Homo sapiens: one gene and its partner. The protein of the gene in region 1 interacts with the protein of each later gene in a biochemical or structural test. Each region holds a gene or a part of one and is shown on either strand. Other genes may lie near its edges. The genes, in order: GOT1 and PC.

Region 1 (3,551 bases):
GCCCCAGTCATCCCTCAGGACTGCAGGATTTTCTAACAACCCAAATGAGTCCTAGAAAGTGGCAGATCCTATTAAAATCACAAGAATTAACTTTAAATACTTAAAAACTCCAATTAATAGACCTCTTGTGTTAAGTAACATCAAACCCCACCAAATTCTACAAAATGGCCATTTGGAGCGGCCCTTGGACTCTGGAAATTGTGATGTATGTTTTTGTGGTTCTGTTTCAATAAACCAGGAGGGACTCTGACAGCAGGGAACGGGCTGATGTTCTATAATCAACCTGAGTGATGTCATCTCCTCTCACAGTCCAAGAAGTCCAGTTTCTTAAGTAACATAAGACAGCTGGCCTCCAAATGACAAGCCCGCAAAATCACCAGGGAGTTATATGGTGAGTTCACTGAAGGAAGCTATACTGTAAGAACACATTGTAGTTTTTCCTTTAGCCACTAGTAAAACCCTCTAAAGCATTCATTTTAAACTGTGGGTCACAACCCATTAGTGGTCATAAAATCAACTCCATGTCTTGATCAACATTTTTATTTTATTTTTTTAGGTGAAGTAGAACACAATAGAATGGCTCAAAAATATCAGAATGCACTACGCACATCACGAGTAAATACTGTTTGGTAAAACTTGTTTCAGTTAAATATGTACGTGTCCGTGCATGTCATGATTAAATATCCTTCTTACCACAGTCACCCTAAAGAACCAAAGCTTAGGACTAGGGACACAACCATGCAGAAAGAGCAGGGAGACCAGACACTCTGGGTTGAGATGATGAATTTAATGCCGCAGCCGACACCCACATTCACACTTTGGCTCCTTCAGACAACTTGATCTTTGGGACTAGAATTTGTACAGAGTCAAACACCACATAGAAGCACGTGGCCGCCACACACAACACTCCTTTTTAGTGAGAGGGACAAGATACCTATGTCTCATGATCAAAGTACTCTTTTATTCTTAAATAAAAATCTTAATTTGCTTTGACCTCCAAAGGCTCTAATCCCAGTCTCCAAATTCGTCTCAAGGGATGTTCTCTTCATGTGGGGCCGGTTTAAACAGAGGCTGCCTCACCAGAGCAGCCTTTCAGTCCTGCAAGTGTCTCTAATCCATGGTATGTACATGTAGGTTTGTGCAGGCAGGGAACACACATGACAGAGAACTACTTTGGTGGTACTGGACGGGTGGTGTTTCTTCACTGGATTTTGGTGACTGCTTCATGGATGGAGGTGGCCACGTAATCTAGATTTTTGGTGGTTAAGCCACTCACGTTGATTCGACCACTTGGCAGCAGGTAGATGTGCTTTTCATTGACCAGATACTCAACCTGCTTGGCTGTTGAAAACCAAAAGAAGACATAATCAGAGCAGAGGGGATCCTTAAAGCAGTGGAGGCTCAGCAATTATATGACAATTACAGCTTTACTTCTTTCCCCTTAACAGAGAGAAGCAAAACAAAAGGCGCTATTTTGTCCAACTGACAAACAGAAAAATATGCTCACTAGATTCTGGAAAGTACTCTTACTAGTTCACCTTTGAATCCCCAGAAAATTCAATATGGCTACTACTGATGGGAATTTTAATCTGAGATTGCCTTCCAACCAAGCCTTATACATTATATCCACCAGGACACCCCTATCACCTAAAAACAACCATCAGACGGACAGCGATATGAAATGCTGGCTATGAAGTGCTTCCTTTAGTTCTTCCCTAACCTGGACTTGCATTGAGTACCCGCGGCAGCCTCCCTTTGACATTTCATTTTTACAATACATTGGGTAAGGCCCCATGCATGAGGTACCTGATCAATCCTGTGTGAATTAACCAATGAGCTGAGAAATGACACAGACCTCTCTGACCTGGCACCATCAGACTTCTGTTCATTTCTCAGCTTTCTCTCAGATGCAGTAGTTTTTCCATGTTTTCAGAAATGCATCACATGTGGGTAAGAAGAGACTACCTGTACTTCCTTTATACAGCAGTCTCTAAAGCAGTTTTGCTATTTGGCAAATCCATTGATAGAATTTTAGTGAATTTGGCTGGGCACAGTGGTTCACGCCTGTGATCCCAGCACTTCAGGAGGCTGAGGCTGGTGGATTACCTGAGGTCAGAAGTTTGAGACCAGCCTGGCCAACATGCTGAGACCCAGTCTCTACTAAAAATACAAAAATTAGCCAGGCGTGGTGGCATGTGCCTATGGTCCCAGCTACTCAGGAGGCTGAGGCAGGAGAATTGCTTGAAACCCAAGAGGAGGAAGTTGCAGTGAGCCGAGATCACACCACTGCACTCCAGCCTGGGTGACAGAGTGAGACTCTGTCTCAAAAAAAAAAAGAATTTTAGTGAATTATTGCTTAAGTAATTAGTACCTTTAAGATACCACCAACCTGAGGAAATGGAATAATAATAGAATCATCATAATCAGAGGAGTAAACACTATGTGCCAGGCAGTGTTCTAAGCACTGCATCTTAGTTCATCCTGATAATAACTTTATCATGCCCATTTTACAGATAGGCCATAAAGACATTAAATGGCCTTCCGAGATTGCACAGCTGGTCAATGGTGGATGTGGGATTTTCAGGCAGGATTTCAAGTCTGGGCTGTACACTGCCCCCGTGATGCTACAGTGCCTCTCTAAGGAAGTGAAAAATCTGGACCCTGGACTCAGTGCTCCTTGAAGGAAACCAAAATAGTTCACCCCAAAATATACTTTGACATATTTTGAGATGGCTGTTGAGAGGGCCTACATACAGAAGTAGCCCTGCAAAGCTGTCTTTTGTGGGAGAGATCTGTATCTGTAGAGAAAATCTGCATGGCTGCAGCTAGGCTTTCTCTGAGGCCCTCCCTTGTCCAGATCTAGGGGAGATTAACTGAGAGTGTGATGCCTTTAAAGGTCTAAAAGAAATAGACCTTTACCGCTATTTTCTCCGAGGGCTGCTACCTGTCTTATCTACATAATATAACAAGACCACCTTTGCTAACCAGGCCTTCTCTTCTCTGCCTGCCATAATCTGTTCTGGCAAGCTCCAAGCTCCCATTCTTTCTATAACCCCAAGATGGTATAAAAGCATCAATCATCTGGCCATTTATTTGAGTTCTATTTTGTAAGACACCTGTGCAAGTTAATAAATTTGCATGCTGGCCAGGCACAGTGGCTCATGCCTGTAATCCAAGTACTTTGGGAGGCTGAGGAGGGAGGATTGCTTGAGCCCAGGAGTTGACGACCAGCCTGGGCATCATAAGGAGACCCTGTCTCTACAAAAAAATCTTAAAAATTAGCCGGGCATGGTGGCACACACCTGTGGTCCCAGGTACTACGAAGGCTGAGGTGGGTGGATTGCTTGGGCCTGGGAGGTTGAGGCTACAGTAAGCCATGATTGTGACGCCGCACTCCAGCCTGGGCAACAGAGTGAGACTCTGACTCAAAAATAAATAAATAAATTTGTATGCCTTTTCTCCTATTAATCTGCCTCTTGTCAGCTGATTTCCAGCAAACTTTCAGAGGGCAAAGGGTAAGTTTTCCCTTGACCCCTCCAAACCAGTGAACA
Region 2 (7,296 bases), on another chromosome or scaffold:
TGAAGCCCGCTGCAGCCTGGCTGACTCGGTTCCCTGTGCCAGTCCTCACCTCCAAGATCTCCCCTAGAAGGTTGTCCCTGGTAGCCCACAGTAGGTCCCCCAGGCCCTTTTCCCTTTTTTGTCCTGCTCCTTGCTTTCACCCGGTCTCACTTCCAGTGCCCCAGGCACTGTGATAGGTACCTGTCCTCCCACCACCACTCATGGGGGCTCTGGGACCAGTGGCAGGGCAGGACCTCAGATTCACTACTCTTATCCCAAGCCACAGTTCCCTGTGTCCCTCTTCCCTCTGTCCTCTCAGTACCTAATAGTGCCAGGAACAAGTAGGTGCCTAATGAGTGTTTTGGGTGAATTAGTTGAAAAGGGGTCAAACTGGGAACCAGTGAGGAGAGAAGGGTGCAAGATGGGGAATACGGAAAGGAGTTACTTTTGGAGGTGGCAGGGATGGCCAGCACCAAGGTCAGTATGGCAGTAAATCTGGCAATCCACATTTCTCACTGGCACCTTCTGCATGGGCTGGAGGCCTCGTTCAGGTCAACGTTTTCTGTGTTTTTTTTTTTTTGGAGACGGAGTCTTGTTTTGTTGCCCAGGCTGCAGTACAGTGGCACCATCTTGGCTCACTGCAGCCTCTGCCTCCCGGATTCAAGTGATTCTCCTGCCTCAGCCTCCTGAGTAGCTGGGATTACAGGCACCAACCCTTTGCCTGGCTAATTTTTGTATCTTTAGTAGAGATGGGGTTTCACTATGTTGGGCAGGCTGGTCTCGAACTCCTGACTTCAGGTGATCACCTGCCTTGGCCTCCCAAAGTGCTGGGATTACAGGCGTGAGCCACTGCACCCGGCCTCTGGTCAACATTTTCATTGAGGATGAGCATGGCCTTCTCTTTGGCTGCCTCCCAATATCGTCCTGCCCCCATCTGAATGGGCCCCGTTTCTTGTATCCTGAAAGTTCCTGCTTTGGGGCAGGTTTCTCACCCAGAGGCCTCCTTCACAGCAGCAGGGCATTTTGCCTGCTCACTCTGAAACCTCACCTGGGCCTGACTGACCGTGCCTTCCTCTCTTTCTCTTAGCTGCCTTCTAGTCTCACCTGTGGACACTTTGCCAAAGGAGTCGGGCCTGACGGTGGAAGATGGGAAATGGCCAAAAGAATAAACCATTTCCTCTTACTTACCGAATGAAAAGCTTGCTTCATCTTGGCGTTCAAGACTCTCTAATATGATTCCACCTGTTGGGCTCTTTCTTCCATTTGCCTCCGCAGGTACCCTCTTCTGTGTCAGCCCCCATAGTGAGATTAGTCACTGTTACCCCAAACTCACTTCTCACGGTCCCCCCTCTGCTCTTGTTCTTGTTGACTTTGTTTTCTGCAGGGCCTTGCTTCTTATCTTGTCCTGTCAAAATTAAATTATTCTTCGAGACACAGGACTTTATTAAGGCTTGCCAAATCTATTCAGTTGGACTGGGCTCTCTTTTCATAACGATGATGATAAGTAATGATTTATTGTTATTAATAATAAAAGTCAACTACTGTGTGGTGGTGACGGCCTTGCTAAGCCCCTTACATACACATAATGTGATTATCACAACAATCCTATTACGAAGGTCCTATTAGATCCATCTCTTACAAATGACGGACTCTCATAGGTGAAACTCAGAGAGGTGAAATAACGCCCAGAGTAACACAGCCAGGCAGGCTAGGTGGCTCACTGCTGGAGTCCCTCTCACGTGCCATCCCATTTTTGCTTCTTTTAACCAGCCCCTAACAACTTGCTTTTTGGCACTTTGTGGGCAGGGCCTGAGTGTACATACAGTTCCTTGTGCAAGGCATGTGCTCAATAAATATTTTATTGACTTGAGTGCCCCAGACATTGAATTTCAGCCTTGACGTTATCTGTCAAGGCAGCTGGTTTTCTCTGAACAGGGATTTGAGCTTGCTGGCCTGTTTTTCCATTTTGCTGTTCATTGACTAGTGGCTAGGGTAGGTGTGGCTTTTTCGGAAATAAGCAGTCAATAAAACTCCGAAAAGTGATTACACAATACCAACTGTGGGCTCCCATGGGCATAAACACGAGGTGGGCTCTTACTTATGGCAGAGAGGGGTCTCTGCAGGAAAGGATTTGAGGAAATAGCCAGGAAATAGAGTACACATCTCAGGTCACGTAAGACAGCTCCTTATTAGTTTCAAGTTGTGGAGTGAGAGAAGAACCAGACTCCCAGTATTCAGAGGGAGCTCCTGAAGGATTAGAGACAGCTCTGCGGAGATGCAGAGAAAGCGGGCCTGAGGCTGGACGGAGTGGGCAGGAAGAGAAAGCACTTCAGATAAAACGAACTGTTTCTAGAACTTCTTGTTCATGTGTAGTGGGTGGCAGAAAAGGGTTTTACTTAAGCGCTTCCCACCTAGCCTGTCGGTTAACGTCCCAGTGTGTCCTCTGTGCCAGGCATGGTGCCACTGCTGTGCGTGTGCTGCCTCATTGGGTATTCCCTAGTACGCTGTGAGATGGGCATTGTTATTATTCCCATTTTACAGATGAGGAAACAGACTTTGAGTGATTACAGAGCGGCTGTCAGAGTAACAAGAGGTGCAGTCCAGGCAGTGGGACAGCACAGCTGGCGCTTCCAGCTCTGTACCCTCCTGGTGCCCTCAGTGGAAGCAAAGAAACAGTTCTTGGCCGGGTGCGGTGGCTCACACCTGTAATCCCAGCACTTTGGGAGGCCGAGGTGGGTGGATCACCTGAGGTCGGGAGTTCGAGACCAGCCTGACCAACATGGAGAAACCCCCATCTCTACTAAAAATACCAAATTAGCTGGGCGTGGTGGCACATGCCTGTAATCCCAACTACCTCAGGAGGCTGAGGCAGGAGAATCGCTTGAATCCGGGAAGCAGAGGTTGCAGTGAGCCGGGATTGCGCCATTGCACTCCAGCCCGGGTAACAAGACTGAAAAAGTTCTCTGGGTTCTAAAATCGGTGTTCTTGCCACTCCTGTTTTCTCTGGGAAGTTCCTGGAGCAATGAGGGTAATGCTGTTTTTTCTTTTGCTTTAGATAGTGTCTGCCTTCTGGAGAGCTGACCAAACACTAAGGGTAAGTCCTGTGCCTGAATCCAGGCTGGCGGGATGCATGGGGGTCTTCACCAGGAGCAGCTGTGGATGCCAGCAGTTTGGCATGTCAGGTCTTAAGCTCAATCAATAAAAAAAGGCTGCGCTCTGATTTGTGGATAATATCCGTTTAAGCAGTCTTGTCTGTTTCCAGTTGCTCCTGATTTTTACAGGAAAGTGACATCTGGCTCCCTGCTGGCCCCATTTGGCAGCTGGCCAGCCTCAGCAGAAGGCCCTGGTTCTGGAAGGGTATGGTCAGCTTGGGAAGCTGGGCAGGAAGAATCCCTGGGGCTGGGCCGTCTCTGAGAAGACCCCTTGAGTCAGCATGGAGAGCAGGCAGCTGTGGTGTGAGGTGGTTCTGCCAGCTGGTTGTAAAGTCACTTGACACGGGTTTCCAGAGGGTGACGCTCAACCTTTGCCAGTCACGGTAACAACGGGGAAAAAGGGACCTGCCCTTCTTCCCCTGCACATTTTACAGGCATGTGCCACCACACCTGGCTAAGTTTTTTTTTTTCTTTTTTTTTTTTGAGACGGAGTCTTGCTCTGTTGCCAGGCTGGAGTGCAGTGGCGCAAGCTCGGCTTACTGCAACCTCTGCCTCCTGGGTTCAAGCAATTCTCCTGCCTCAGCCTCCCGAGTAGCTGGGACTACAGGTGTGTGCTGCCATGCCCAGCTAATTTTTGTATTTTTAGTAGAGACGGGGTTTTACCATGTTGGCCAGGATGGTCTCAATCTCTTGATCTTGTGATCCACCCACCTCAGCCCCTCAAAGTGCTGGGATTACAGGCATGAACCACTGTGCCCGGCCTAATTTTTGTATTTTTAGTAGAGATGGGATTTTACCATGTTGGTCAGGCTGGTCTCGAACTCCTGACCTCAGGTGATCCGCCCTCTTCGGCCTCCCCAGATGCTGGGATTACAGGTGTGAGCCAGCGCGTCCGGCCTCTACTGCTTTTACAGTTCCCCCAACATGGATTTCCATGGTGGCAGGTGCCTGGGAGATTCAGTGGCCTCCCCTCAGCCTAAATTCCACAGCCCTCCCGCCGGTCCCCTGCTAGTCCAGTCCCCTCTCCCCCTGCTGGTCTGCAGGAGCAGCCGAGCCAGGGAACCAGGTGCTCTCCCAGCATTTGTGACAACAATAATGCTCTTCCCTTCAGGCCCGCTGTGGCCTTGGGGACTTTGTGGCTCAGGGACAACTTTCTCCAGAGCTCATATCCAGTGCTGAGTGGGGATTCCTTGGTATAGGAGTTTTTCTCGGTTTTCCACCCATTATGTGGGGGTTTTCCTCTGACGACCCTTCATGACGCAGGAGCTGGTTTCCTGTGTGAGATTTCCCGCAGTCCTCCCTTGGAGCTAGGTCTTGGGCCAGCAGGTGCCGTCTGCGTGCTACCATTGAGTAAGGGCAATGGGCTCATGGTGGGAATGGCCGTAACGTGGAAGAACTCCACCCTCCACGAGTTTCACCCCCTTGTTCTCTCTCTGCTTGCTCTGTCCTCTTATTCTTGGCTGCTAGAGTTGGATGTTATTTCTCTTACTTGCATCCCTACAATGAGAGGTGGGCATGTTGGGGAAGGTTCCCCCCAAACCACTTGTCTTATGGAACTGAAGAAACTGAAGCCTAGAGAAGGCTGCTTAGCAGAATCCAAGATGCTGATCCCATTGTTTATTCTTCTTTTAAAATTGCCATATTTTATTGATGTCTTCCCTTAGATCCATCAATAGAGAGGGAAAATCAGTCACCAAGAAGGGACCTCTTCTTCCAGGTTATGTAATTTGTCAAAGCTTGTTTGGCTCCTCAGTTCCCAAGGCACTGCTGACTTGAGCTTTGCCTAGGGACTAAGGCTCTGTAGTCTAAGCTTGTCACCCTCCCCTCCTCTTCAGCTTTCTCCTGGGGGGACATGGATGTGGCCCTTTGTTGTGTTGTTAAGTGTTATGCCTGAAGGCGTTACCCCAGGTACTCCCAGCACTACCTCGGGTTTCCTACTCTTGTGTTACCTCCTTGTCCTGATATGCCTCGAGGCCAGAGAAAGAGGTGGGGCCGGGAGGGCACGGGACAGCTGGGAGTACATTTCCACTGCCTGTGTGTGGAAGGGCCTGACTGCTTCTGTGGCAGCTCCTTTCCTGATGACATCCACCATGACATCACAACGAGGCTTTGGGAAAATTCCACGACCTGGCCATGCTGAGTCATACTTAGTCTCTGGGGATGTGTGTCACCTTTCTCTTGTCTGTCACTGAGTGCTGCAGTTACTATGAAGTGACACATGCTGCCCATTTATTACGTTTGCACATCACTTTATGCTGCTTTGGAGCCTCTTCTCATGTACATGCTGTGTATCAATGTGAAATGTATTAATATTAAATCATTAATAATAAGTATATTATTTATTCTGGAAAATATTTGTCTCTTGCAATGTGTGAGGAACCAGAGGTTCAGAGAGACTAGAGACTAAGCGACTTGGTGAGTTTCGGGTGACTGGTGCGTGGCATGTCTGAGGGAGGTTTGGATGCCACACCCACTCCTACCCCTGGATTTTTATGTAATGCAAAGATTATTCAGAAATTACTTTGGTCGAAAACAATTGATTTTCAATTTGTTAAAATTATGAATTCAGAAACCTAGTTATTTTAAGGGCCAGTCTTTTAAGTTTAGCTTATAAGTGTAGCCTATAAATCTTTCTGATCTATTTACGATTCTAGGACATTTTAACAGTCACTTTCAGGGGGCTTTTATTTATTTATTTTTTTTGCGATGGAGTCTCGCTCTGTCGCGATCTCGGCTCACTGCAACCTCCGCCTCCTGGTTCAAGCGATTCTTCTGCCTCAGCCTCCTGAGTAGCTGGGATTACAGGCGCCCGCCACCATGCTGGCTAATTTGTATTTTTAGTAGAGGCGGGGTTTCTTCATGTTGGTCAGGCTGGTCTCGAACTCCTGACTCAAGTGATCTGCCCGCCTCGGCCTCCCAAAGTGCTGGGATTACAGGCGTGAGCCGCCGCCCCGGCCTTAGGGGGCTTTTTGATTAATGCTTGGTCCCATTTGCAAATTTGATGAAACTTCTGAAATGTTTCAATTGAACTTATAAATCATATTCAACTTCAGTTAACTATTTTAATAATTCTTCTGGCCGGGCATGGTGGGTGGCTCACGCCTGTAATCCTAGCACTTTGGGAGGCCAAGGCGGGCAGATCACGAGGTCAAGAGATTGAGACCATCCTGGCCAACATGGTGAAACCCTGTCGCTACTAAAAATACAAAAATTAGCTGGGTGTGGTGGTCACGCGCCTGTAATCCCAGCTACTTGGGAGGCTGAGGCAGGAGAATCGCTTGAACCCGGGAGGCGGAGGTTGCAGTGAGCTGAGATTATGCCACTGCACTCCAGCCTGGCGACACAGCAAGACTCCATCTCAAAAAAATAATAATAATAATAAATAATAATAATAATTCTTCCATTTTTCTGATTAAAAAAACCCTCTAATACCTAAATGACTCTTGTAAATCTAATAAATGAAGCTGAATATTACACTTTTCTTAAACTTTCCTATACCGTTTTATGTTTTGTTTGTTTATTTTTGTTTATTTTGAGACGGTCTGATTCTGTCACTCAGGCTGGAGTACAGTGGCACAGTCTCAGCTCACTGCAACCTCTACCTCCTAGGCTCAGGTGATCTTCCCTTTTCAGACTCCTGAGTAGCTGGGACTACAGGTTCAAGCCACCACACCCGGCTAATTTTTGTACTTTTTGTGGAGACGGGGTTTCACCACATTGCCCAGGCTCATCTCGAACTCCTGAGCTCAAGCAATCAGCCCGCCTTGGCCTCCCAAAGTGCTGGGATTACAGGCGTGATACATTTTAGTTTTTACAATAGCTTTATTGGAGTATTACTGAGATATAATAAGTTGCACATATTTAAAGTATACAGTTTAGTAAGTTTTAACATATGTGTACCCTTGTGAAACCATCACTGCAGTCCAGAGAGTGAACACATTCATCACCTTTGGAATTCCTCCCTCTGCCTCCTCACTCTTCAGGAAACCATGGAACTGCTTTCTGTTACTATAGGTTAGTTTCCATTTTCTGGAATTTCACATAAATTGACTCATACAGTATATATTCTTTTTTCTCTGCCTTCTTTTACTCAGCATAATTATGTTGAGATATGTCCATGTTGTTGCTTGTATTGATAGTTCATTTCCTTCTTTTTTTTTTTTTT

What was found.
Region 2: the proteins of GOT1 (region 1) and PC form a complex in vitro, tested with the Homo sapiens proteins (one study listed by BioGRID).

What each region holds. Positions count from the first base shown.
Region 1 is NC_000010.11:99,396,346-99,399,896, forward strand, and holds the end of GOT1 (aspartate aminotransferase, cytoplasmic), read right to left. Parts: intron 1,342-3,551; coding exon 1,202-1,341; 3' UTR 525-1,201; downstream 1-524. UniProt on the Homo sapiens protein: Biosynthesis of L-glutamate from L-aspartate or L-cysteine. Important regulator of levels of glutamate, the major excitatory neurotransmitter of the vertebrate central nervous system. Acts as a scavenger of glutamate in brain neuroprotection.
Region 2 is NC_000011.10:66,948,207-66,955,502, reverse strand, and holds part of PC (pyruvate carboxylase, mitochondrial precursor), read left to right. Parts: intron 1-1,066; 5' UTR 1,067-1,254; intron 1,255-3,034; 5' UTR 3,035-3,073; intron 3,074-7,296. UniProt on the Homo sapiens protein: Pyruvate carboxylase catalyzes a 2-step reaction, involving the ATP-dependent carboxylation of the covalently attached biotin in the first step and the transfer of the carboxyl group to pyruvate in the second.